Regions from separate parts of the Homo sapiens genome. Here regions 1 and 3 are each linked to region 2. Evidence: fine-mapped expression QTL. A gene starts in region 2. Each other region holds a variant in brackets. All regions are shown on one strand. Distances are from middle to middle.

What was found. PIP is the estimated chance that this variant, and not a neighbour inherited with it, causes the effect.
Region 1: its variant is fine-mapped to the expression of CLEC4E in whole blood (TOPMed, PIP above 0.99).
Region 3: its variant is fine-mapped to the expression of CLEC4E in whole blood (TOPMed, PIP 0.99).

Annotation. Positions count from the first base shown.
Region 1 is chr12:8,513,868-8,522,168 of GRCh38, reverse strand. It overlaps CLEC4D (C-type lectin domain family 4 member D), which reads right to left. Exons shown (of 6, transcript NM_080387.5): 2 at 6,841-6,933; 3 at 3,895-4,005; 4 at 3,009-3,160; 5 at 1,828-1,943; 6 at 1-1,045. The coding sequence ends at 898. Among named protein-coding and RNA genes, the nearest start is that of CLEC4D, 4.5 kb to the right of the region's middle. The variant T/C (reference allele first, on the strand shown) is at 3,787.
Region 2 is chr12:8,535,927-8,544,227 of GRCh38, reverse strand. It overlaps CLEC4E (C-type lectin domain family 4 member E), which reads left to right and starts at 3,323. Exons shown (of 6, transcript NM_014358.4): 1 at 3,323-3,467; 2 at 4,281-4,373; 3 at 4,922-5,011; 4 at 6,962-7,113; 5 at 8,023-8,138. The coding sequence starts at 3,431.
Region 3 is chr12:8,562,745-8,571,045 of GRCh38, reverse strand. It overlaps LOC124902872 (a long non-coding RNA gene), which reads left to right and starts at 3,110. Exons shown (of 3, transcript XR_007063203.1): 1 at 3,110-3,552; 2 at 4,821-6,318. It overlaps LOC105369645 (a long non-coding RNA gene), which reads right to left and starts at 6,555. Exons shown (of 4, transcript XR_007063201.1): 1 at 6,465-6,555; 2 at 6,230-6,376; 3 at 6,030-6,123; 4 at 4,973-5,523. RefSeq lists enhancers at 5,766-6,397, 7,032-7,664. The variant C/A (reference allele first, on the strand shown) is at 4,854.

The sequences.
Region 1 (8,301 bases), 22 kb after region 2:
ATTAATAATGCAAACACGAATACAATGTTACTTCAAACAATTAAGAAATTTTATCCAGTCGTTAGCTAAGTAATGAGGTCGAGTAATCCCCAGTAACTTCCTGTGATACCAAAGGGAATGTATGTTATCTCTAATGAAGCACACCTGGGTCTGTCATGAACTAACAATGTGAAGGTGAGCCCTTTGGCTTCTGGGGGATTTTATTTCCTCTGCTGTAGAATTGAAGGACTTTGTTTAAGGTGTCTTACAAAGACTTCTTGCTTTGCAAAAACGTGTTGGGTGGAGTAAGAAGTAAATTTTTAAAGGCATTTGGACTTTTTTTCTATCTGTAGAACAGCATAATTCAGAACTATTCCACACTGTTGTTCTGGAAAAATTTTCCTCATGCAATGTAATTGTAATGACTGACATTAAAAAGTCTGAAAATGAAACATCAAACAATAAAAATGTGGTTTCAAATCTTTAAAGTGCTTGCAATATTTGGGTTAAAAATGATGCACCACTACCAGTTAGAATATCCCATCTTTGAATTTTAAGAGCTAAGAGTCTGAGAAGGGGAAAAATGACAAAGAGATTGCATTATTCACGCTATTCTTCCATACATGCATTCAGTGCACACCAATTGAAAAGTAAACACCTTGAAATACTACTAAGAAAGCAAAGAAAGATTATTCCTTCCATCAAACACCATACAAAAACCACATTATCTACACACACACACACACACATACACACATGTTGTCTCGAATGAATCAAACAAAATAAAAAAGACCATTATGACTAAAAACGCTGTATGAACCAGCATGTTTTCTGTGTTCCAATGACGCACGTACATTCTGCCTTATTCTAATTGGTTTTTCTTTTCTCTTTCCATCACAAGGACCACTTTCTGAGTTTCTAGTTCAATGTTGTTCCAGGTATTTTACAAATCCTACTTGCTTCAAAGTTACAAGGAACATCATTCCAGGCCCATTTATCTTGGTTATAAACAAGAACAACACAGTTTTCTCCCTGAGAGTTGTCGGGTTCATTCTTATGCCAGAATCTGAAAGAACAACAACATAGATAGAGATTTATAGGTATATATAGACAATGTAGATTATAGGTGTAGATTAGATATAGATATATTAGGAGACAATTCAGAGAAATGTCCCTAGTGAACAGTTTAGAACTGCACTAATACTATACTCACTAGACACATGTAGCTACTGAGCACTTGAAATGTGGCTTCTCTGAATTGAAATGTGCTTTAAGTCTTAAGTGCTGTATTTTGAAGACTTAGTGCCAATGAAGAATGTCAAAGACCTCAGTAATAATTTTATAATGATCACATGTTGAAATGATAAGATTTGGATATATTGGGTTAAATACATTATTAATACGTTATTAAAATACATTTCACTTGCTTCTTTTTACTTTCTTAATATAACTAACAAAAAATTTTAAATTGCACATGTGGCTTTGCATTATATTTTTACTAAACGATACTGGCTTCAAGAAAGAAAATGACAAGATTTTGATTCTCTTTCAAAGAAAATTTTTATCGCTTATATTGTTTATTTAAATGTCAAGCCTAAAACAAATTTTATATCACTTCTATGCTATTCATTCTTTCATTATTGACATTGTGCAAATAAGAATACTGAAAATTGCATGCAAATTATAGGACCATTCTGGAACTGGGACATAGCATATGGAGATTACTCAACCTACAGTGGTCTCTCTTAACATTTTTATATCAATGTACTCCACTTCAAAATGAATGTTTCTTGCTACCATCTTCTAACCTTTGCTTATAAATCCCCTTAGCCCACTCAATATACTTACACTCTGCGTGGGTTAAATGGCGTCTGGTCCACCCAACGCCACTGACCTTTGGCATTCTCATCTCTAAGTCCAAGGAAATAGGAAAGCCGTCTATCCAGAAACTGAATAATAAAGTTCTGCATAAAAATGTAAATTTTAATATAGTTGCATGAATCAGGTGATGGCTATGATGTTGGAAAAAGAGGAAATATGTCAACTAGATTACTGGTTAAGCACAAAAGCTCTGGCATCAGATAGATCTGTTTTCAAATCCTGCCTGTAATGTTAGTAAGTGCTTCAATCTTACCAAACCCCCAGTGCTCTTGTCTTCAAAAGGGACAACTCCACTACTTTATAGAGTTACTAGGAAGATTAAGTGAGGTCAGACTTGCAACCCTTTTAGCACAATGCTTAATAAGATTAGATTTTTTAGGAGGTTTTGTTTTTAATATCTTCTTTAATTGCGTGCATATTTCATTAAATTCCATTTTATTCAGAATTACCGAACCTATACATTGTAAACCTATGGAGACAAAATCCTTGAGGAAACTATTAACCAAGAAAAAGTTAGAATCTGAGTCATGGTACATAAATGGAAACATATTACATGAGGAAATAAATTTTAGCCTTTAAAGAATTTACCCTAAGATTTCTTTACTTATCATTAGATCCATACATCTGAATTAGTTTTCCTGTACTTTATCCTGAGAAGCTAGTTCAGTCCTGATTAACCATTCATTTATTCACCTACTAACCAAACATTTATCAAGACCTATCCAGTGTGCCTCACACTGCACGGGACATTGGAAGCGCAAAGGTGAGTAGAGCATGGATCCAGCCCTCCACGTAGTAAAAGTCACTGGAAGAGATGGAGCAGTGAACAGACAATTATAGTGGAGTGAAGTAAATGCCATGATCTCGTTGTGCACAAAGTCCTACAGAAGTACTTCCCACTTAGAACAGGGAGGGGTAGAATGAGGAAGGTAGTTAGGGTAGCTTTCTGGAGGAAATAACATATGAATCAAATATAGAAAGACCAAAAGAAGTTGGCCATATGACAAAAAGTTGAAGAGGAAGAAAGGGCTTTCCAGGCAGATGGAGCAGATGAAAACAGACAGAGGCATAACAGGACAGAGAAATTCCTCTTTTTCTGGAAAGAGATTCAAAGCAGCAGAGAAACTGATGTGATCCTCCCAACACACCTGCTCAGCTTCCGTGCTGATGGTCATCAGATGGGCCCCCATCCCTGAACAGTTCCTTTCACTCTCAGCCCACGTCTTGTTGTCAGTAAGAGGAAAATAGCAGTTGGACTGGAAGGCTCTCCAGTCAATAGGACAACAGTTCCAGGTGCTCCCTCAAGTGAAAATTAAAACGGAAATTGGTAACAAAAGAGCATTTCATCTGTAACAGATTGCATAACTATTCTACTACCTATATCCAATTAATATTTGTGAGAATAATATCAAGATCACCAAAATTATTCTGTTCTCCTACCAAAAGATCCTGAAAATTACATTCCTAAATATCTTCTAAACATAAGTACTGGACACCACATAATGACTACGAGAAAATCACAAAATATTGCCTTAGAAGGCATGACTGTTATTCATTGTTCCTACATCTGTTGACTTGCACATTTAAAGTGTTTCCATTACGAAGCTTTTGCAGGATATTTTACCTAAAGTGGGTAAAGAACCTACTAAAACTTAAGCACTGCCCCATTCTCCCAAATGAGATGACAAATTCCACAATAATAAAAGAAATAAAGACATGTCAGCAAAGCTGTATATTCTAGGAGGAAACTGTCTTTATCATATGTCTGAATCAAGGGAAAATTGAATCTGATTAATGTTATGTTTTGGATGTCAAAAATAACCCATCCATCTGTAAAGCTATATTCTCCGGTTATTAACTGGATTACAGTAATGAGAAATAATTCTATCTTAAGGTATTCTTATTTACTCCGATGCCAGATTCTCA[T/C]CTTATGCTATTTTAATCTTTCCTGGTTCACTACTGACATTCCTTCAGTCAGACTATGAATTTGAACGAAAATGGAAATTAAAAAAGAAATTATCTTACACTCTGTACCTTCAGCACTTTTCAGTTCTGATTTCTCTTTGATGCATTTGAGCTTTGCATGGTGCTCTAACTTGTGCACTCCTGTGCCTCTCTTACAGCGTGAAAAGTTGTGATGAGTCACTGTCAAGGATAAAAGCAAGTTAGGTTTCTTTTTCTATATAACCACTAATTAGGGAAATAGGGGCTGACCTTCCTAAATTTTCTCTTATCCTAATAATTAAGGCCCTCATATTCTCTTTTCTTTCTATGCAGCTTGTTTGTTTCAGCTCCAGGTGAATTGGTTGAAAGCAATTGTTGAAAATTAATATTTTTATTATCATATTGTCCTTTTTTTTTCTGAGACGGAGTCTCGCTCTGTCACCCAGGCTGGAGTGCAGTGGCGCGATTTCGGCTCACTGCAAGCTCCGCCTCCCGGGTTCACATCATTCTCCTGCCTCAGCCTCCCGAGTAGCTGGGACTACAGGCGCCCGCCACCACGTCCGGCTAATTTTTTCTGTTTTTAGTAGAGACGGGGTTTCACCTTGTTAGCCAGGATGGTCTTGATCTCCTGACCTCGAGATCCGCCTGCCTCGGCCTCCCAAAGTGCTGGGATTACAGGCGTGAGCCACCGCGTCCGGCCCGTTTTGTTCTTTACGGGAGAAGTTTTGCAAACTTTTATGTGCACATGCTTGCAAGCATGTTTTTCTATCAAAATTTGTGTTAGAATAGGGGTTTTTGGTGCGCGCTGGGTTGTATGAACCTTATGCATTTCTAAAATACTTTCACCTTGAAATATATAAACAAATGTACCCTTCCTGGACAGCACACACCGGGGCCTGTTGTGGGGTGGGGGGAGGGGGGAGGGATAGCATTTGGAGATATGCCTAATGTTAACTGATGAGTTACTGGGTGCAGCACACCAACATGGCACATGTATGCATATGTAACTAACCTGCACGTTGTGCACATGTACCCTAAAACTTAAAGTATAATAAAATAAATATAAATAAATAATAAAAAATAAACAAATGTAAAAAAGTGGAAAACAGTTTAGCAAATTATTGTAAGGTGAACACTCCAGGTAACAACTACTCAGCTCAAGAAACAGAATATTGCCAAAACCCCAGATAGCCTTCACATCTCAAAGGCAGCTCACTCCCTCGCCTTTATAGGTAACCACTCTCCTTTACAGGTAACCACTCTTGGCTTTTAAAGTAACCGCTGTGCTTTGCTTCACAATTTTGTCACTTACTAACATGTCCCTATAGATCAGATTTGCCTGTTTTTGAACGGCAATCACACAGTATGTATTCTGATTCTGTCTTTTGTTGAGAATTGTTTCTGAAATTTGTCTATTTTGTTACGTGCCCGCTATAATTCATCCATTGTCATTGCTGTAAAGTGAACTATTGTCTTCCTGAAACAAAATATATTTATCTATTCTACTCCTATTAGATGTGTGCCTTGTTTCCAGTGTTTGGCTACTGTGAACTATGCTCTTCTGAGCATTTTCAACCATGCATTTGGAGCACATAAGCATGCGTTTCTGTAGGGCACATACGTAGGAGTGGAACTGCAGGCAATAGCGTACGAATATTGTAAACTATGATAGCGGTAAACTTTTCCAGAGTGACTGTAATGCTTAAACTCCACCAGAAGCAATTCACTAGAGGTCCATTTGCTCCATGGCATCATCAATATTTAGTAGTGCCAGACTTTTTATTGTTGCCATCCTGTTATGTTTGCAAAGGTGTCTCACTGTGAGTTGCATTTGCATTTCCCTGATAATTAATTAATGAGGCTGGCACTTTTGTGTGTTTATTAGACATTTCATTTTTCTCTTTGTTTTAGTACCTATTTAAGACTTTGCCCAGTTTTTTTATTGTAAGTATTTTTCCTACTGGTTTGAAAAAATTTGTATATAATCTACATGTGAATTATTTATTAATTATATGCATTACAAGTATCTTCTCCTATGGCTTTTTATTTTCACTGTTACTGGTATGTTTTGTTGTACAGTAACTCATTTTAATGTAGTATAATTTGTCAATGTTTATTTTCTAGTGCATTTTGTGGCTTGTTTAAGAAATCGTTCTCTACCTCCAGGTCATGAGGATATTCTCCATTTATCTTCTTAAAACTTTATTGATTTACTTTTCACATTTTGGACAATAATCTGCTCTAGATTTGTTTTTGTATACAGTGTGATGCAGGAGACCAATTTCATCTTTTAAATATAAATAATCAATGGGCTCTGCAACATTAATTGAACAAAATTGTCCTTTTCCCATATGTCTGAGATATCTTCTTTTGTTTTATATAAAGAGTCTTATATACATGCAGGATCTGTAACCAAGCTCTCCTTTATTTTCCTCTAGTCTATTTGTCTTGCACCTATATCATATTACTTTAATTATAATTATTTTATGTTTGATATCAGAAAGAATTTTTTTAATGGTGGTGATGGTTTCAAGGGTGTATACTAATCCCCCAAATTGAGATGTATACATTAAATATGTACAGGTTTTCATATGTCAATCGTACATCAATAAAGAGGTTGAAAGAAAGGAAAAAAGAAAGAAAGAGAGGGAAAGAGAGAGAGAGAACAATTCTTCCAACCTTGTTCTTTTCAAAGCCAGTCTATCTGAAAGTTATTTTTCTTCTGCTTACTCTTTTCTCATAAGATGTATCCCTTTGTGATCCCAGTCCAAAATGGGGGGAAATTTGCTATAGTAACCAACTTTTACATGTACAGAAAATGGTCTAAATTCCATCAATCAATCTCTATCACAAGGTACCACCATTGAAAGACAGAAGGTCAAGAATGTAGCTCTGAATATTCAGTGCAAGACCCTGAAGATATTATAGATAGGTTATGCTAGGAAAAATCAAGATACCAAAAGGCTTAGAGCAACTTCAGAAAAGTTGTTTGGAAATAATAATTCAAGAAGAGTTCTACTTTGGCTAATAACTTACCCAAACAACTTGCAATAAAACAGACACTGAGAAGTAAGATGAAAACTACAGCAATAACCGAAGGTATCAGCTGGGGATGCATGCCTCCTTCCACTAGGACCAAAAGAAAAATAGAGATTAACCTCCTCTCAGCTACAAGCTAGGAAAGCTAATTCTACCAAGGAGCAATCTAAAAGTGACAGCAAACCAAATATTTCAGATCTAGAGAAGAGCATAAATATTTTCTCCAAATAAATCAATTTTAGAGCTTATTGATGAATAAATAAATAAGAAAGAAAAATGTAAAATTTCTTGGTAATTTTGAAATGAAAAGAATTTTATAAGTAAGATACAAAACCCAAGAGCCATTAGAATAGATAATTTGAGTACATAAAAATTAAAACTTCTATATAACACAAGCAATGTTAGAGTCAAGGAACGTATGAAAGGAAAGTCTTCTCATAATATTAATATCCGCACTGGATAAAGTATTTCAAAATCAACTAGAAAACTGAGCAAAACTCTGAGCAGGAAATTTGCTGAAATTTTAATTTGCTGAAGTTATAAATAGCCACTAATCAAACAAAAATATGCCCAATCAGGGAACTGTAAACGAAAAGATTGTGGTATAACTTTTCACACATCAGATTTTTTAAGTAAATTAAGTACATGCAGTGTTGGCAAGGCTGAGGGGAAATAAGCACTCTTAGTGAGAAAATAAATGCTGCTGCCTGGACTGGAAAATTAGGAATGCCTTTTAGAAGGATCAATTTAGTGGCATTTATCCATTTTTAAATGCATTTCATTTGCCACAATAATTTCAATTACAGGTGTCTATTCTATAGAAATAATTGAGCTTGTTTATGTTAAAAGATATTCATTGCAGTACTTCTCAAAATAGAAAACACATACTGTAATCTAATATTTACATGTATATTATCAATAGTGGAAATTCTAAATTATGGTCCCTTCACACAATGATATTCTGTATAGTAATTAAATAAGCATGTAATCAGTATATATTGATGCAAAAAATCTCTAAGAAATATTGTTACCTAAAAAGGTAATTCAATAGGATCACACTGTGATTACAGTTTGCCATGGTAGGGTGATGAGATAAAGTAAAACTTTAATTTTAATTTAAACATTTCCACACTTGTTCTATATATCTATCAAAAATATTATTTAATATTATCACAATACAAATCCACTGGTGTCACTTAAGTCAAACATAAAATGGGACAGTTAGAGCCTCTGATACAGCATAAGCCTAAATGCTTTTTCTACATCTTCCTTTTCTCTTTTTTCTTTAAAAGAATCTTCTCATATTACTCTCTTTCTTTTCATCTTATTTCTCTTTTATATATTTTATCTCCCCTCTTGGTCCAATATACATTTTATAAAGAAGTTTCTGTTATCCAACTTATTTGACTCTATGTCCTTCCTCTTCACCAACGTCATTTTTATTTCCTTCCACCTCCT
Region 2 (8,301 bases):
AATGCACAGAATTCCCTCCTTGAATAGAAAGGAGATACTCAAGAATGTGAAATGGGGTTACCCAATGCATGCACAGTCAGGTGGCTGACAGGTCACCATAAATTTGGTTCCCCTGAGGAGTTGGCTAAACCTATAGCTGAATAGGCCCCTCTCTCTGGTCAGCTGTCAAGGCAGCAGTGTGGCTTACAGATAGATGGCAGTTCAAGGGTAAAGGGCTGGCCGTCAACCTGGGAAGCAGCAGCCCTGGGATCAGTTAGTGATTGCATGTTAGATGAAAAGACAAAAAATAAATCTGCCCCAAGGCTAAAATTGAGTGATGTTTCTCTTGGCATCAAAGAAAAGTAGATACTAACAATACTCGTATGGCATAGATGTTTACAGCTTTTACTGATTCTTTTTCAGTTGCCTGAAATATTGACAGGCAATATAGTTTAGAAAAGGGACTTAGACGATAAGTTCCTGGATGATATTTAAAAAGGGAAATCAAAGAATCTATTGCTGAACAACAGGTGCTGGAGAGGATGTGGAGAAATAGGAATGCTTTTACACTGTTGGTGGGACGTAAACTAGTTCAACCATTGTGGAAGTCAGTGTGGAGATTCCTCAGGGATCTAGAACTAGAAATACAATTTGACCCAGCCACCCCATTACTGGGTATATACCCAAAGGATTATAAATCATGCTGCTATAAAGACACATGCACACGTATGTTTATTGTGGCACTATTCACAATAGCAAAGACTTGGAACCAACCCAAATGTCCATCAATGATAGACTGGATTAAGAAAATGTGGCACATATACACCATGGAATACTATGCAGCCATAAAAAATGATGAGTTCATGTCCTTTGTAGGCACATGGATGAAGCTGGAAACCATCATTCTCAGCAAACTATCGCAAGAACAAAAAACCAAACACCGCATGTTCTCACTCATAGGTGGGAATTGAACAATGAGAACACTTGGACCCAGGAAGGGGAACATCACACTCTGGGGACTGTTGTGGGGTGGGGGGAGGGGGGAGGGATAGCATTAGGAGATATACCTAATGCTAAATGACGAGTTAATGGGTGCAGCACACCAGCATGGCACATGTATGCATATGTAACAAACCTGCACGTTGTGCACACGTACCCTAAAGCTTAAAGTGTAATAAAAGATAAATAAAAATAAATAAAAATTAATCCCCCCCCCCAAAAAAGAAATCATTAAGCATGGTCAACTTTAGAAGAATGCACTAAGGATAGTTAAGAAGGCTTTTACTTGTCACATGCTTTTCATAGTATTAATCATAAAACATATTACTCGTATAATTTGGGGAAAATCAATGAAACAAAAGATATAAAAACATTTTGGCTGGAAAAAATATTAATTTATTGATTTCTGTTTAATTGTATATTGATAAAAATTAACATACAATTGTTTAGTAATATTGATGGTTGCTGGTTGATTGTAATTAATAAAAGATGGACTGTGGTAATTATGTTCATCATTTTATAATTCATATAGCTCATCCACTAGATAGTTTCTCTTTTTTTACTGATCAAAAGCTATTTGCTGAGAATACACATATTAAATATGGGTATATTCTATAATATACACATATATAATTTAAAGATATTTTTAAAATTGTATTACTATAAAACAGAGAATGCAGAGAAAATTGACCAGTACCTTGAAATAATAAAAAGTCCCTTTGAGAACAAGAATATTTTCTCACACATGGAAAATTCGTGAGTCACTGGATGTGGGGATTTACCAAGTCATGTACATCATACTTATGCCTCCTGACTCGTGAACTTAAATAAACTGAGACCAGTGTGATCTTATTCTTAAGTATCTTTAAGTAAGGAGAAGGCACATATCTAACTATTCTTCCAGAGAAGCATTAATTCTTTTTTTTTTTTTTTTTTGAGACAGAGTCTCACTCTATCGCCCAGGCTGGAGTGCAGTGGTGCAATTTTGGCTCACTGCAACCTCTGCCTCCCAGGATCAAGCTATTCTCCTGTCTCAGCCTCTCAAGTATCTGGAATTACAGATGCGTGCCACCACACTTGGCTAATTTTTGTATTTTTAGTAGAGGTGGGGTTTCACCATGTTGGCCAGGCTGGTCTCAAACTCCTGACCTCAAATGATCCACCCACCTTGGCCTCCCAAAGTGTTGGAATTACAGGCATGAGCCACTGCTCCCGGCCCAGAGAACCATTAAATTCTAATATCTAATTGAAATTGCTTTTTCTGACCTTCAAATACATTTCTCCTACTGTAGGCTGTAACATAGAACTAAAATCCCCAAATAATTGAGAACAGGAGAATTAAACTGCCTGCTGGGTCTCTGAGACTTCAGAAGCTGCGTTATGTTGTGAAAAACTAAGCTGAGTTTCAAAGTGGTCTAATCACATGAGGCTGTCCTGCTGAGGGGGACTCTAGTAGTCAGCCTAGTAGTAGCAGCCTAGTAGTCAGCATAAGATAAGAGGGACATAAATCCACAACATTAGAATATTCAAGAGCTGCAAATGAAGAAGAAAGAAAAACCATAAAAGATGAAAAAGAGGACGGGCGCGGTGGCTCACGCCTGTAATCTCAGGACTTTGGGAGGCTGAGGCGGGCGGATCACGAGGTCAGGAAATTGAAACCATCCTGACGACCACAGTGAAACCCCGTCTCTGCTAAAAATACAAAAAATTAGCCAGGCGTGGTGGCGAGCGCCTGTAGTCCCAGCTACTCGGGAGGCTGAGGCAGGAGAATGGCTTGAACCCGGGAGGCGGAGCTTGCAGTGAGCGGAGATCATGCCACTGCACTCCAGCCTGGACGACAGAGCGAGACTCTGTCTCAAAAAAAAAAAAAAAAAAAAAGATGAAAAAATTCAGGTTGCCATGTCCTAAATACATACACTATATGCCCAGCTTTGTGCTATGTTGTCTAAGTCTTCTTTTCAGTTACCAAATGTGTGGATGGTACAGATCCAAAGTGAAATTCAGAGTGCAGAGGTGAGCTCCATATTGTCAAGGAAAAACTGGGGGATGAGTTATGCCTTGAAGAAACTAGAGACATTTGGTCCAACGAAACGAAACAACATTTAAAAAAAAAACTCTCCTGTTTCCCCATGGCTAGCCTATTTGTGTTGATGCTTACCATTTCATAATTTCCTCATTTTGTTGTTACATGGAGTGAAGAGAACTGACATGCTGTCCAATAAACTTCCTTGTCCTCCTTATGCAAGAAAGGAAATCCTGACTTAATGCGTAGCCACAGAACAAGTTAATATTCTACATCTATCGGAGCTGAACTTCCTAAAAGACAAAGTGTTTATCTTTCAAGATTCATTCTCCCTGAATCTTACCAACAAAACACTCCTGAGGAGAAAGAAAGAGAGGGAGGGAGAGAAAAAGAGAGAGAGAGAAACAAAAAACCAAAGAGAGAGAAAAAATGAATTCATCTAAATCATCTGAAACACAATGCACAGGTAAAATCTGCAACTCTTCCTTTCCTTCCATAGATCTCTTTTTGGAACAAGTGATAAATATGGTGAAAGACAGGACAATAGAAAAGTATTCACTGAAGTTAAAAAAAAAAGTGGGGGGACAGAGGAAGAGAGAGAGAGAGATTTAAAGACTATTTCTTATACCAGAAAGCCTGCTGGCCTCTAGCTAAGGGAGAGCTATCAGTTTCCACCCTTTCTGCAATACATTGTGTCCCTTTTGGCAAGTCACTTCACTTCTCTGGAACTCTCTTTGTCTGTAAAATGTTTAATGGGAGGAAGAGAGGAACTATTAGATGACTGTTAACATTTTACCTAATTTACAAAGCGCTTGAAAAGTGAGACACAGAAAAAAAAAAAAGATCAGGAGAAGGACAAGAAAAGCAAAGACGAGAAAAGGGAAAAGAAAGAAAAAGAAAGAAGGGGGGCCTTAGAAAATACTGAAAAAAATTTAACTGAGAGACTTAGAAAGGAAAAATTGTATATCTGAGTTCATGAGTCAGAGTCTTACTCCAGGGGTGCTAAACGTGTGGTCCTCAGACCAGCAGCAGCAGTAGCCCCTGGGAACTTGTTGGTTCCATACAAACTCTACTGAGTTGCTAACTCTGGGGGTAAGGGTCAGCAATCTGTGTTTCCATAAACCCTCCAAGTGATTCTGAAGCATGCTGAAATTTGGGAATTACTCAGTACAAACAATGGAAGTAGAAGGAAATAAGTAAGGATGAATAAGAATCTCTTCTATCTCTTTTGTACCTTGCTTAGGGAAGATTGATCATGTTTGTGTCTTTCTTTCTACAGAGAGAGGATGCTTCTCTTCCCAAATGTTCTTATGGACTGTTGCTGGGATCCCCATCCTATTTCTCAGTGCCTGTTTCATCACCAGATGTGTTGGTGGGTTCTGAAGGTCAAATTCAATTTAATTCTTCCTGGTGCATATTAGGAGAAAACTCTTCCATGCTGCCTGTAGACTCTCTTTGCCCTCAAAGGGTCTTTCTATTTCACCCTTTTTTTTTTCCCTATTAATCTCTAGGTTATTTCTCAAACCAGAAACCTCAACAAGCAGGGAACTGTTTCTGAATTTTAATCACCTGTGACTTACTTTTCATGATAGACATTTTTCACTTCCTTGGCAGTCCTGAATCCTCCTCTTTCAGCCTCTATCATTAGTGTAACCTTCTCTAGGAGAGTCTGCCTTAGAGCTTGAACTACTGGTCGGCACCAGAGATATGACTAATTACTTTTGGAAGGAAGGGTAGAGAGAGTTGGACTTGGCATAAGAGGTAGTGCAAACATATCTATTTTCTCTGGGTCGTAAGAAAAAGCAGATTGTAAGAAAAAACATGATAATTATTGGCACTTTTGTTATAAATACAAAACTGAGGGAACTGACATTTTTAACCGAAATAAGACTAACAAACATTATGCCCTTTCTTTTACAGTGACATTTCGCATCTTTCAAACCTGTGATGAGAAAAAGTTTCAGCTACCTGAGAATTTCACAGAGCTCTCCTGCTACAATTATGGATCAGGTATAATAGTCCCAAAGGTGAACATCAAAATTTACAAAGCAACATTTTCTGGCTTCTAGATTGACTTTGGGACAGGTGAGATATAGCTGGATTAGGTCTTATTTTTCAAAAGCAAAATGTAAAATCCTAGAAATTTGGTGATGCAATTAGCATTGGGGCAGAAAGTCTTGGGGACATTATAGTAAACTTTTAGAATAAATTTGAGGGGTATGTCTGAACAGTAAATCTGGAAGTGGAAGGTATTATTCCCAGGAGTGTACCTTTTTTTTCATTCACCTACTTCCAAAATGAGATGGAGAAAAAACGTATGGAGTAGAGAATTTATAAATATCTCACAAATATACTCTCTATGCTCTTCTATGTCATCCTGTTGCAAGTCCTAGCAAAATGCTACATGACACTAAAAAAGTGACTTCCTTCTCTGAGCTATAATTTTCTCACCATTAAATTGAGAGAAGTTAGAAGAATTATTTATAATAGACCTCAAAGGCAAAAGTTCTGTAATTCTAAGAAATCTAACTGTAGGGACCAGCCCCACAGGGTTGGTGGGTCTCTCCCTGTGTCCAGAGACGAGAGCATGTAGAAATAAAGACACAAGACAAAGAGATAAAAGAAAAGGCAGCTGGGCCCAAGGGACCACTACCACCAATGCGCGGAGACCGGTAGTGGCTCCGAATGTCTGGCTGCGCTGTTATTTATTGGATACAAGGTGAAAGGGGCAGGGTAGAGAGTGTGAGTCATCTCCAATGATAGGTAAGGTCATGTGGGTCACGTGTCCACTGGACAGGGGGACCTTCCCTGCCTGGCAGCCGAGGCAGAGAGGGAGAGGAGACAGAGAGAAAGACAGCTTACGCTATTATTTCTGCATATCAGGGACTATTAGTACTTTCGCTAATTTACTACTGCTATCTAGAAGGCAGAGCCAGGTGTACAGGATGGAACATGAAGGCAGACTAGGAGTGTGACCACTGAAGCACAGCATCACAGGGAGACGGTTAGGCCTCCGGATAACTGCGGGCAAGCCTGACTAATGTCAGGCCCTCCACAAGAGGTGGAGGAGCAGAGTCTTCTCTAAACTCCCCCAGGGAAAGGAAGACTCCCTTTTCCTGTCTGCTAAGTAGCGGGTGTTTTCCCTTGACACTTAACGCTACCGCTAGACCACAGTCTGTCTGCCTGGCCACGGGCGTCTTCCCAGACGCTGGCGTCACCGCTAGACCAAGGAGCCCTCTGGTGGCCCTGTCCGGGCATAACGGAAGGCTCGCACTCTTGTCTTCTGGTCACACCTCACTATGTCCCCTCAGCTCGTAGCTCTGTACGGCCTGGTTTTTCCTTGGCTATGATTATAGAGCGAGGATTATTATAATATTGGAATAAAAAGTAATTGCTACAAACTAATGATTAATGATATTCATATATAATCATATCTAAGATCTATATCTGGTATAACTATTCTTGTTTTATATTTTATTATACTGGAACAGCTCGTGTCCTCTGTCTCTTGCCTCAGCGCCTGGGTGGCTTGCCGCCCACATCTAACCCATCTATATACTACAGTATGGAGATTTGATTGAGGATACATTGTTTAGGTAACATAAGAGATGGCTCTTTGGGGGTCACCCAAATAAAATGCATAAATTTCTCTGACATTAGTAGTCTAAGAACAGATAATAAGGTTCTATATCAATAGCATAACTAAGATAGTTTGCATATATAGTTGCATTTCCTGGCACTGACATCCAGAGAATGAGAATTACGTTCAAAAGACCAAAAACATTCTGTTTATGTTTCTTGACATTGGAATTATCTAAAGTCTTAGATACTAAGATGTAGGGTATGAACAAGTGATTCCAAGGCTTCTGACTTAAATGAGGACTCCATGGGGCCAGATGAAGCTTTGGGTTTTCTTATTCGGTTCACCTGGGACACTCACTGAAACATCTCTCATCCTAGGTTCAGTCAAGAATTGTTGTCCATTGAACTGGGAATATTTTCAATCCAGCTGCTACTTCTTTTCTACTGACACCATTTCCTGGGCGTTAAGTTTAAAGAACTGCTCAGCCATGGGGGCTCACCTGGTGGTTATCAACTCACAGGAGGAGCAGGTAGCTGGAGTCCTCCGATGCCAATGTAACATTCCCGACATGGTCCACCTCTCTTTTCATACATATGCACAGTGCTTGACCCCCAATGACTATTGTTAATGAATGTACTAAAATGCATGCTGTTCTTACTATTTCGGTAAAGTCACTGCCTACCTTAATTTATTTTCCTTCCTAGAAGAACCTAAGAAAAAGGGAATTTCCATGTGGAGTTCCTTTAGTTAGGCAAGGGGAAAAAGAGGGTTGGAAGTGTTAATTTTAGACGAATCGTTATGTTTATGAACATATTATATGAAAGAAGAGAAGCAAATATTGTCCGTTTTCTTTAAGCTGTGATTAATAATATTTTGCGCTAGATATATTCAATAAATTTGGCCACCAATAATAGTAGATAAACTTTGAAAGAATTATTGAGGATCTCCTTTTCTGTTGAAGGTTATTTTTTCAGTTTAATTTTATGTTATGTATATTTTACCACAAAAAAAAATCAGTAGATAATCCTCATGATCTTACAGTTTCACTTATCTGTTATTTCTCATCCAGATTCTTTTTTACTTTTTGAGATGGAGTCTTGCTGTGTTGCCCAGGCTGGAGTGCAGTGGCGCAATCTCGGCTCACTGCAACCTCTGCCTCCCAGGTTCAAGCGATTCTCCTGCCTCAGCCTCCCAAGTAGCTGGGACTACAGGCACCCGCCACCATGCCTGGCAAATTTTTTTATACTTTTAGTAGAGACAGGGTTTCGCCATGTTGGTCAAGCTGGTCTTGAACTCCTGACCTCAGGTGATCCACCCGCCTCGGCCTCCCAAAGTGCTAGGATCTCATCCAGATTCTTACCTCTTTGAATAATAATTACTAGCAACGTTTATTCAAAACTAAAATAACTGATCTCCTTTTATTTTGTATCTTCCATAGGAATTCCTTTCCTACAAGAAACCTAAAATGAGAGAGTTTTTTATTGGACTGTCAGACCAGGTTGTCGAGGGTCAGTGGCAATGGGTGGACGGCACACCTTTGACAAAGTCTCTGAGGTAATTACCCTCCTATTGAGAGGAGTTCTTGAAACCTCCTTCTGTTACCTGCAATAGATCAGGTCCATTATTGGTGGTGGTATTAAATGCAGGAAAGAGAAGAGCTAAGGTAGAAAAGATGAAGGAGAAGTACAAGCACCCACTTCTCTCCTTTCCTGGAATT
Region 3 (8,301 bases), 27 kb before region 2:
CACGATCTCGGCCCACTGCAACCTCCACCTTCTGGGTTCAAGCGATTCTCCTTCCTCAGCCTCCTGAGTAGCTGGGATTACAGACATGTGCTACCACACCTGGCTCATTTTTGTATTTTTAGTAGAGAGGGGTTTTGCCATGTTGGCCAGGCTGGTCTTGAACTCCTGACCTCAGGTGATCCACCCACCTTGGCATCCCAAAGTGCTAGGATTACAGGTGTGAGCCACCGTGCCTGGCCAAGGTACAGATTTATATAAAATTTAGCTCTCAGCTTCTTCGAAACCAAAACATATGATAATTTTTTTAAAAAAATGCTTTACATTGTTCTTGTATAATGTAAGGAAACATATCAGCTCATGTGAGAGACTGCCTTCTAACTTTGAGGGGATTTTTTCATATATACATTTTTTCACATATATATGTATATATATACACGTGTATATCACGTATACACACACACACACACACACACACACACACACACACACATATATATATATATATATATACATACATTTTTCAGATGGAGTCTTGCTCTGTCACCCAGGATGGAGTGCAGTGGTGTGTTCTTGGCTCACTGCAACCTCACTGCAAGTAACTCTCCTGCCTCAGCCTCCTGAGTAGCTGGGATTACATGCATGCGCCACCTCACCCAGCTACTTTTTATATTTTTAGTAGAGACGGGGTTTCACCATGTTAGCCAGGCTGGTCTCTAACTCCTTACCTCAGGTGATCTGCCCACTTCAGCCTCCCTGAAGTGTTAGGATTACAGGTGTGAGCCACTGCACCCGGGTCACCCACTATAAATATTTTCGTAAGAACAATTTATAAACAATATCTGTCACAGCAGTTAAAAAATGTATAATCTTCATATGGACAGCTAGCAAGTTCCCAGCTCTTTTCATGCCCCCAAAAGAGACTGCCTTATTGCCACACCAACCCAGGAAGGGCAAGCCAGAAAAATGACCGAGCCAATCTGACTCCATTATGCTGATATATTGATTCCTGGCAGATCTTGAATGCTTCAGGAGAAGAAAAAAAACCACATTAAGTTTTAGTACCATTTCTGCCACGGTATTTTCTCTCTGACCCTGGCCAAGTTGCATGTTTATTTCCTAGTTTTCTCATTGTGATAGGGACGCTATATCTCTATGTGTTCTCCTTTGCTTTCTTTCTTCTTTTTAACTTTTAATTAATATATAATAGATGAAGATGTTTTCAGGGTAAATGTGATTTTTTTGTTGTTTTTGTTTTGTTATTTTTGAGATAGGGTCTCACTCTGTTGCCAAGGCTGAAATGCAGTGGTGAGATCATAGCTCACTGCAGCCTCAAACTCCTGGACTCAAGTGATCTTCCTTTCTTGGCCTCCCAAGTAGCTAGGACCGCAGGCACATGCTACCATGTCTTTTGTGGAGACGGAGTCTTGCTATATTGCCCAGGTCAGTCTGAAACTCCTGGGCTCAAGCCATCCTCCTGCCTCAGCCTCCTAAAATGCTGGGTTACAGGCATGAGCCAACATGCCCGGCCCACATGTGATATTTTGATACAGTCATATAATGTGTAAAGATAAAACAGGGTAATTGGGATATCACCATCTTAAATAATTATTTTTTCTTTATGCTAGGAACATTTGAATTATTCTCTGCCAGCTATTTTAAAATGTACAATAGAGTATTGTTAACTATAGTCACCGGATTGATCTATCAAACACTAGATCTTATTTCTATCTAACTATATATTTGTACCCATTAATTAGCCTCTCTTCATCTCATCCTCCTTCCTACCCCTCCCAACCTCCAGTAACCATCATTCTACTCTCAATCTTCATCAGAACCACTTTTTTAGCTCCCACATATGAGCAACAACATGTGATATTTGTCCTTCTGTCCTTGGCTTATTTTATGTAACATAATGACCTCCAGTTCTATCCATGTTGCTTCAATTGCAGGATTTTATTCTGTTTCATGGCTTAATAATATTCCATTGTATATGTATACCACATTTTTACTTTTCTAATTTCAAATTTTTTAATTTTTTAGAGACAGGGCCTTGCTATGTTGCCCAGGCTGGTTTCAAACTCCCGGCCTCAAGCAATTTTCCCACCTTGGCCTCCCAAACTGCTGAGATTACAGGTGTGAGCCACTGAGCCAGCCCATATACCCCATTTTCTTGATCTATTGATGGATGCTGTGTCCAAACTCCATTTTCATTTTTCCCTAGACATGCAGCTGGACTGTTTCTTAGTCTTCTTCTTAGTCTTAGTTAGTTGGAGCCACATGACTGATTTTTGGTTAGCAGTGATGGCAGTAGCTGCTGCCATCACACTGCCTGCAGGAGGGGCTGCACACTCCAAGGAGCCCGTGGGAGCTGCGCCCCCTTCTGAGTTGAGGCCAGAGTTCCCTGGGTGTTGCTGCAGCTGCCAGAATGGTGGCTGCAGACCCAGGTCTCCTGCACGAAGGAGCCCCACCTCCTGGGCAAGGCTGCAGCTGTCCAAACTGCCACTGTGGATCTGAGCCTCCCTGTGCTCTTGGAGGGGGCCTGGAGCAGACAGGATCTGCCCTCCCAGGTGCAGCTGCAGCTGCCCCACCCATGGCTACAGACCTGGGCCTCCTAATCCACAGAACAGGCAGGAGCTGGGGACAAGTGGGACCCCCACCCCTTCTGAGTTGGTAGTGTGGGAGCTCCCCGGATGCCTCTGCAGCCACCCTCCCAGGTACAGGGCCAGGCATCTCTGCAGCCTTCACCTTCAGGCCTTGGGAAGGCCCCCCAGTCCCTGCAGGCTTGAGGGGATATGCTTCCACTGCCTGGCCTCTCTTCTCTCCCACCACCTGCTTCAATCTCGGGGTGGGGTTGCAGCTGAGCCAGGGACCAAAAATGGCAGTGGGGAGGTGCACAGATTCCTGGGTGGAAGGGGGCGGTCCCCAGTAAGGCCTCTCCTTCAGGCCAGGGAAGCCTTGAAGGCTGGGGGCCCAGCTGCCAGTCCCACAGACTGGAGCGGGGACATGTGGTATCTCCTCTAGGCCCACCCATGGCCAGTCATGGACCAATCGGCAGGCACTTCCTCCCATCTGAGGTCCATAAAAGCCTAGGGCTCAGCCAGAGTAAAGTAGAGGGCAGAGAAAAGCCCTGGGCTCAGCCAGAGAAGGGCAGAGGACAGAGGACTGAGAGAGGACTGGACAACCAGCTGCAAAGAGGAGCTACCTTCTCTGTGAGAGCTTCAGAGACCTGCAGAGACATTGAATGAACTGCCTGCAGAGAGGAGTCACCCTCTCCAAGGTCTTCGCTCTGCTAAGAACAGCAGACAATGGGGCAACCAGTGGGCAGAGAGGAGCTACCCTCTTCAGAGCCTCCTCTCTGCTGAGAGCTGGACACTTGATTGGATGATCTGCCTACAGAGAGGAGCAACCCACTGTGGATTTTCTCTGAGCTGTAACACTCAATAAAGCTCTTCTTTGTCTTGTTCACCTTCCACTTGTCTGCATAGGCAGGATTTGGCACCACTGGCAGTGACACTGTAACATTTTGGGGGCTCATCTGGGATCTCCAAAAGGGTAAGTAAAAGTGGATCTACTTTCTGTCCTTTCTTTTGGAGTCTCTAAACTCCACAATAGTCAAAATGAAAGAAAAATACCAGGCTTCTGTCAACCAGTTAAAAGCAACTAGTGCAGCTGCAGAACTTAAGACATGAAGGACAGGCTTGCTGGGGAGGGACACTGTCAATCCCCCATCAACCTCAGGTGTTGGGAATGTTGGCTTTGTTCTAACCCAATTTCCCTTCATGGAGGTCTAGCCATCTCATGGGACTGGAAGGAGGTCCTGGGGCAACTGAGGGTATCTGGCCAAGGCTACACTTTGGTGTTATTCAAAGGCTCCTGGACTAACTCCAGTCCCCAACTGCCCATTAGGGTGTCCGCACTAGGACCTTCAGCCTTTCCTATTGTTCTTTTCTTTCTTTCATGGCTATCATGGTTCCTATCTCTTTTATATACGATGTTAAATGTAAAGGATGTTGTTGCAAGCCAGAGATATTACTGGGTGGAATGAGCATTTGGCTTGGTCACCAAAGTGTAAGAGTAGCACAGATGTAGCAAAGTGTGTCTTGGTATCTGTATGTAAATTTGTGGTGAAAATGTTCTTGTAATTTACTTGGTTGCCAACTTAGTGCCAAGCACCTTGAGGCACAGAAGAGAAGCCTTGCCTCAGGAAGGAAGCTTTTCTGTAAACATGAGGGCAAAGGGTCCTAGGTCCCTTATGTGCAGGCCTTCTTTGCCTTGCATGTTAACCTGGATCTTTGCCAACATTGTAGGATTGATTCAGCCCTCCTAGTGGCCATCTCAGGAGAGGTTACAAGGGGCAATCCCAAGGAAATAGGGAAGCAAGCCCCAGAGATACCTCTAGGTACCTCTAGAAATCCTCATTTTAGGCAGGTGCCAGTCTCACTCCTGCCCCTACAACAGATGCCTGATGAATATGGCCCTGTTAAGATCCAGGTGCCCTTTTCTCTTCAGGATTTATTGCAAACTAAGGGGGATCTTGGCAGGTTTTCAGATGGCCCTAATAGGTATGTAGAAGCTTTCCAGAAATTAACCCAAGTAACATGGCATCCTGCCATGAGTTCAGTTGGCTATGAGAGTGCAGAGGTGAGCTCCATATTGTCAAGGAAAAACTGGGGGATGAGTTATGCCTTGAAGAAACTAGAGACATTTGGTCCAACAAAACGAAACAACATTTAAAAAAAACTCTCCTATTTCCCCATGGCCAGCCTATTTGTGTTGATGCTTACCATTTCATAATTTCCTCATTTTGTTGTTGCATGGAGTGAAGAGAACTGACATGCTGTCCAATAAACTTC[C/A]TTGTCCTCCTTATGCAAGAAAGGAAATCCTGACTTAATGCGTAGCCACAGAACAAGTTAAAAGTGAAATATCTACACAAATTATTTGGAATCCTTCTGTATGAGAAAGGAGATTTGTCTATTTTCCCACATTTATTCATTTATTGACATCAGTATAGACTCATGGATATTTGTTTTATGGTTGGTTTGTAATCCAATGCTACATTATTTATTTTGTTGTTCAAGTTGTTCCAGCTTTGGACTGGGAGCTCTTTCGATTGGCTTCTGTTTTCTACAGCTAAAATTAGTGAAGAGATAATCTTCTGTTATTTCATTTAACCTTCAACCCAACCTTATAAAAATGTCTTTTTGTTATTCTTGTTTTACAAATAAGGGAGCTGAGGTCGAGAGTTTAATTTATGCAGCTGTTGATTGGCAAAGCCAGGATTCGAATAAAAACAGTCTTTAACCAGCATGCTATGTTACTTTCTGTCAATGTCTTCATTCAAAGACCACCAGGAACACACCTGTAGTTAAACAAGTTGTGTTTTTTTTGCAGTGAGGGAAAATGCATGTACATCTCCCCCTTTTCTGTTTTTTGCATCAGGTTTTGTTGATTGAAGAGTACAAATGTGTGCAACAACGGATTTGTCAAGTGTGGTGGTCACTGCTCGCATTCTGGCTTTGCATCCTAGAATTAGTAAATAACATAAGACAAACATGAGTATAATTAGCAACATTCTTTTTCAATCAAGGAGTGACCCCTCCCCCAGGAGTGGGGGTCTGTCTATCCAGGAGAAATGATCTCGCACACCCTTCCATCCTAATATATGAATCTATTGTGAGTACACCATTTCACATTAAGCTCCAAATCGCTGTCAGATTTTTCTTTCATTTGGACAGAGCTATTAATGAGTCACGTAGTTACGCTATTCTTTATGGAGGAAAAGAGTGAATAACCCCTTTTCAGAATATCCTGATGAAGAGAACTTGAAACAACAGAGAATATCAGAGAGGATATGTCCGGTTCATTCTTTTAAGCTACAAATATTTTATTCTATATCAGGATAATCATGAGCATTGAACCCTGACTTCCTGGACTCAAATCCTGGCTTCCCCAAATACTACTTGTGTGACCTTAACTAAATTACTTAATCTGTCTATGCTGCAGTTTCCTTATCTGATTCTGCCACTTACTAGATGTGTGATTTTCAGCAAATCACTCAGTGTCTTGGAACGTTCCTCATCCTTGGGCGCTCCCCTTCGTCTTTGCAGCGCTTGCTTTCGTTGCCTGGCAACGGGACGCGACACCAGGATTGAGCGTTAAGTGCGTGCTTTGGACGAGCGCATTACTGAGGCGGTTTTGACCGTTGGGCCTTGTCATTTGCTAGACTCACCTGGGTCCCCAGTCAGTGCCCGGCTCCTCCTCCTCCACCTCCTCGGGGCGGCACCTGCGGGGCAGGGGGAGCCCCTTCCACAAACCCGGGTAGGAAAACCAAGGTGGAGCGTTGCCAGATTCAATACAGTACCACATGCGCCGTCAACTTTGAATTTCAGATAAACGAGTTACTTTTGAGTACAAATATAGTATCACACAAAGTTATTCGTTGGTTATCTGAAATTCAGAGTTACCTGGGCATGCTGTGTTTATTTGCTGAGTCTGGCACCCCGGCCCGGGCCGCCTCCCTGTCCACTCTGGCTGGGTCTCCCAGGCATGGGCAAGGGACCTCCTTCTACCTCCTGTGGCAACTTCTTCAGGCTGGAGGCAGCTGTCTCTGTGGAAAGGGGCTTTCGTATGTTGAGCCAAGATGCCTATTGATGTATATGACAAATCACACTTAAAACAGGAGAGATGGGTTATTCTCATCGTTCAAGGAAACAGGTGCTGAGCGAGATGGCAATCCTTGCCCGTGTCCTACCGATATGTCCACAATTCCCAGACAGGTCCTGGACTTGGGCCGACCCTTAGGAGGGAAATTTCATACGGAAAATTTTTATTTCTATAATCTATAGCTTTTAAAATTAATAAAATGTCGTTTAATGTCTCTTTGAATATGTTACTTATACTTATTTTCTATATTTTGTCTGTTTTTTTAAAAATAGTTTTTGAGTGTAAAGTATTTCATTTGTTGTATTTATTGTCTCATTTTCATGGTCTTGCAAACCAAAAATGAAGATTTCTTCCCAGGGCAATCAAGGAAGAAGACTTTCACTCAATTATCAGCTCCCAAAGTTGAACTTCGATTTAAGCTATTCCCTGCATTTTCTACATGAGAAAACATTAGAGATAATGGTCCCTTTCTCATGTTCATCTTTCTGGAGCAGCAGCAGGAGTCTGTTCCCATTTTTATGTTATTTCACTTCAAGTGACATTGAGATGTCTATGCAGTATTTGTGTCTTTGGATTATATCATACTGAAGAAATACAGTGAAGATACTGTGCTCTGAAGTCAGTTACTTTCCTCTGTGTGGTTAAGGCAGCAATGCCAACTCGATAGGGAATTAGGTTTATTTGTGCCACTTTGTTTTCAGTTTTAATGACTGTATTTACATATACATGCATACACATTCCTTTCCCCGCTGCTTTGTATTCCTTTCCCCAGTACAAAAGATGGCATACTGTGTGCAATTTCTGCACCTTGCTTTCTTCACTTCACCCTGTGTCCTGGAGTTCACACCCTACTTTACAGAGCTTCCGCATTCTCTTGTATATCTGCATAATAATCCATTGTGTTGCTCTGCCTCATCAGTCCTGAATTTGATGAATATTCAGATGGTGCTCCAGTTTGACTTTTGAAAATAATGGTGCAAATAACCATGTGCATCTGCCATTTCATATTTTTGCAAGCATATCTTTGTTTTGTTTTTGTTTCTGTTTGATACAGAGTCTTGCTCTGTCGCCCAGGCTGGAGTGCAGTGGCATTTTGTATCTTAAAGGTATTTTCTGACTTTCTTGTACCTGGAAGTCTACTTCTCTAGTAAGATTAGATAATTTTTTCTGAATTATTCTTTTAAATATGCTTTCCAGGTTGCTTATCTTTTCTTCTCTTCCAAGAATGCCTGTAAGTCATAGGTTTGGTCACTTTACATAATCCCATATTTCTTGAATTTTCATTTTTTAAAAATTCTTTTTTTCTTTATTTTTATTTGACTGAGTTAATTTGAAAGAGCAGTCTTCAGGCTCTGAAATTCCTTCTTCTGCTTGACCTAATCTATTATTAAAGCTTTCAAATATATTTTGAAAATCTTTAAGTGAATTTTTCATTTTTAGAACTTCTGTTTTTTAGATATCTATCTCTTCATCTCCTGGATTGCTTTCATGGTTTCTTTGTGTTGGTTTTCAAGCTTCTCTTGGATCTCATTGAGCTTCCTTGCAATCCATACTTTGTATTTTTCATCTGTCATTTCTGAGTGTTCATCTTGGTTAAGGTCTATTGATCCTTAGGTGGTGTCACAGCATTCAGATTTT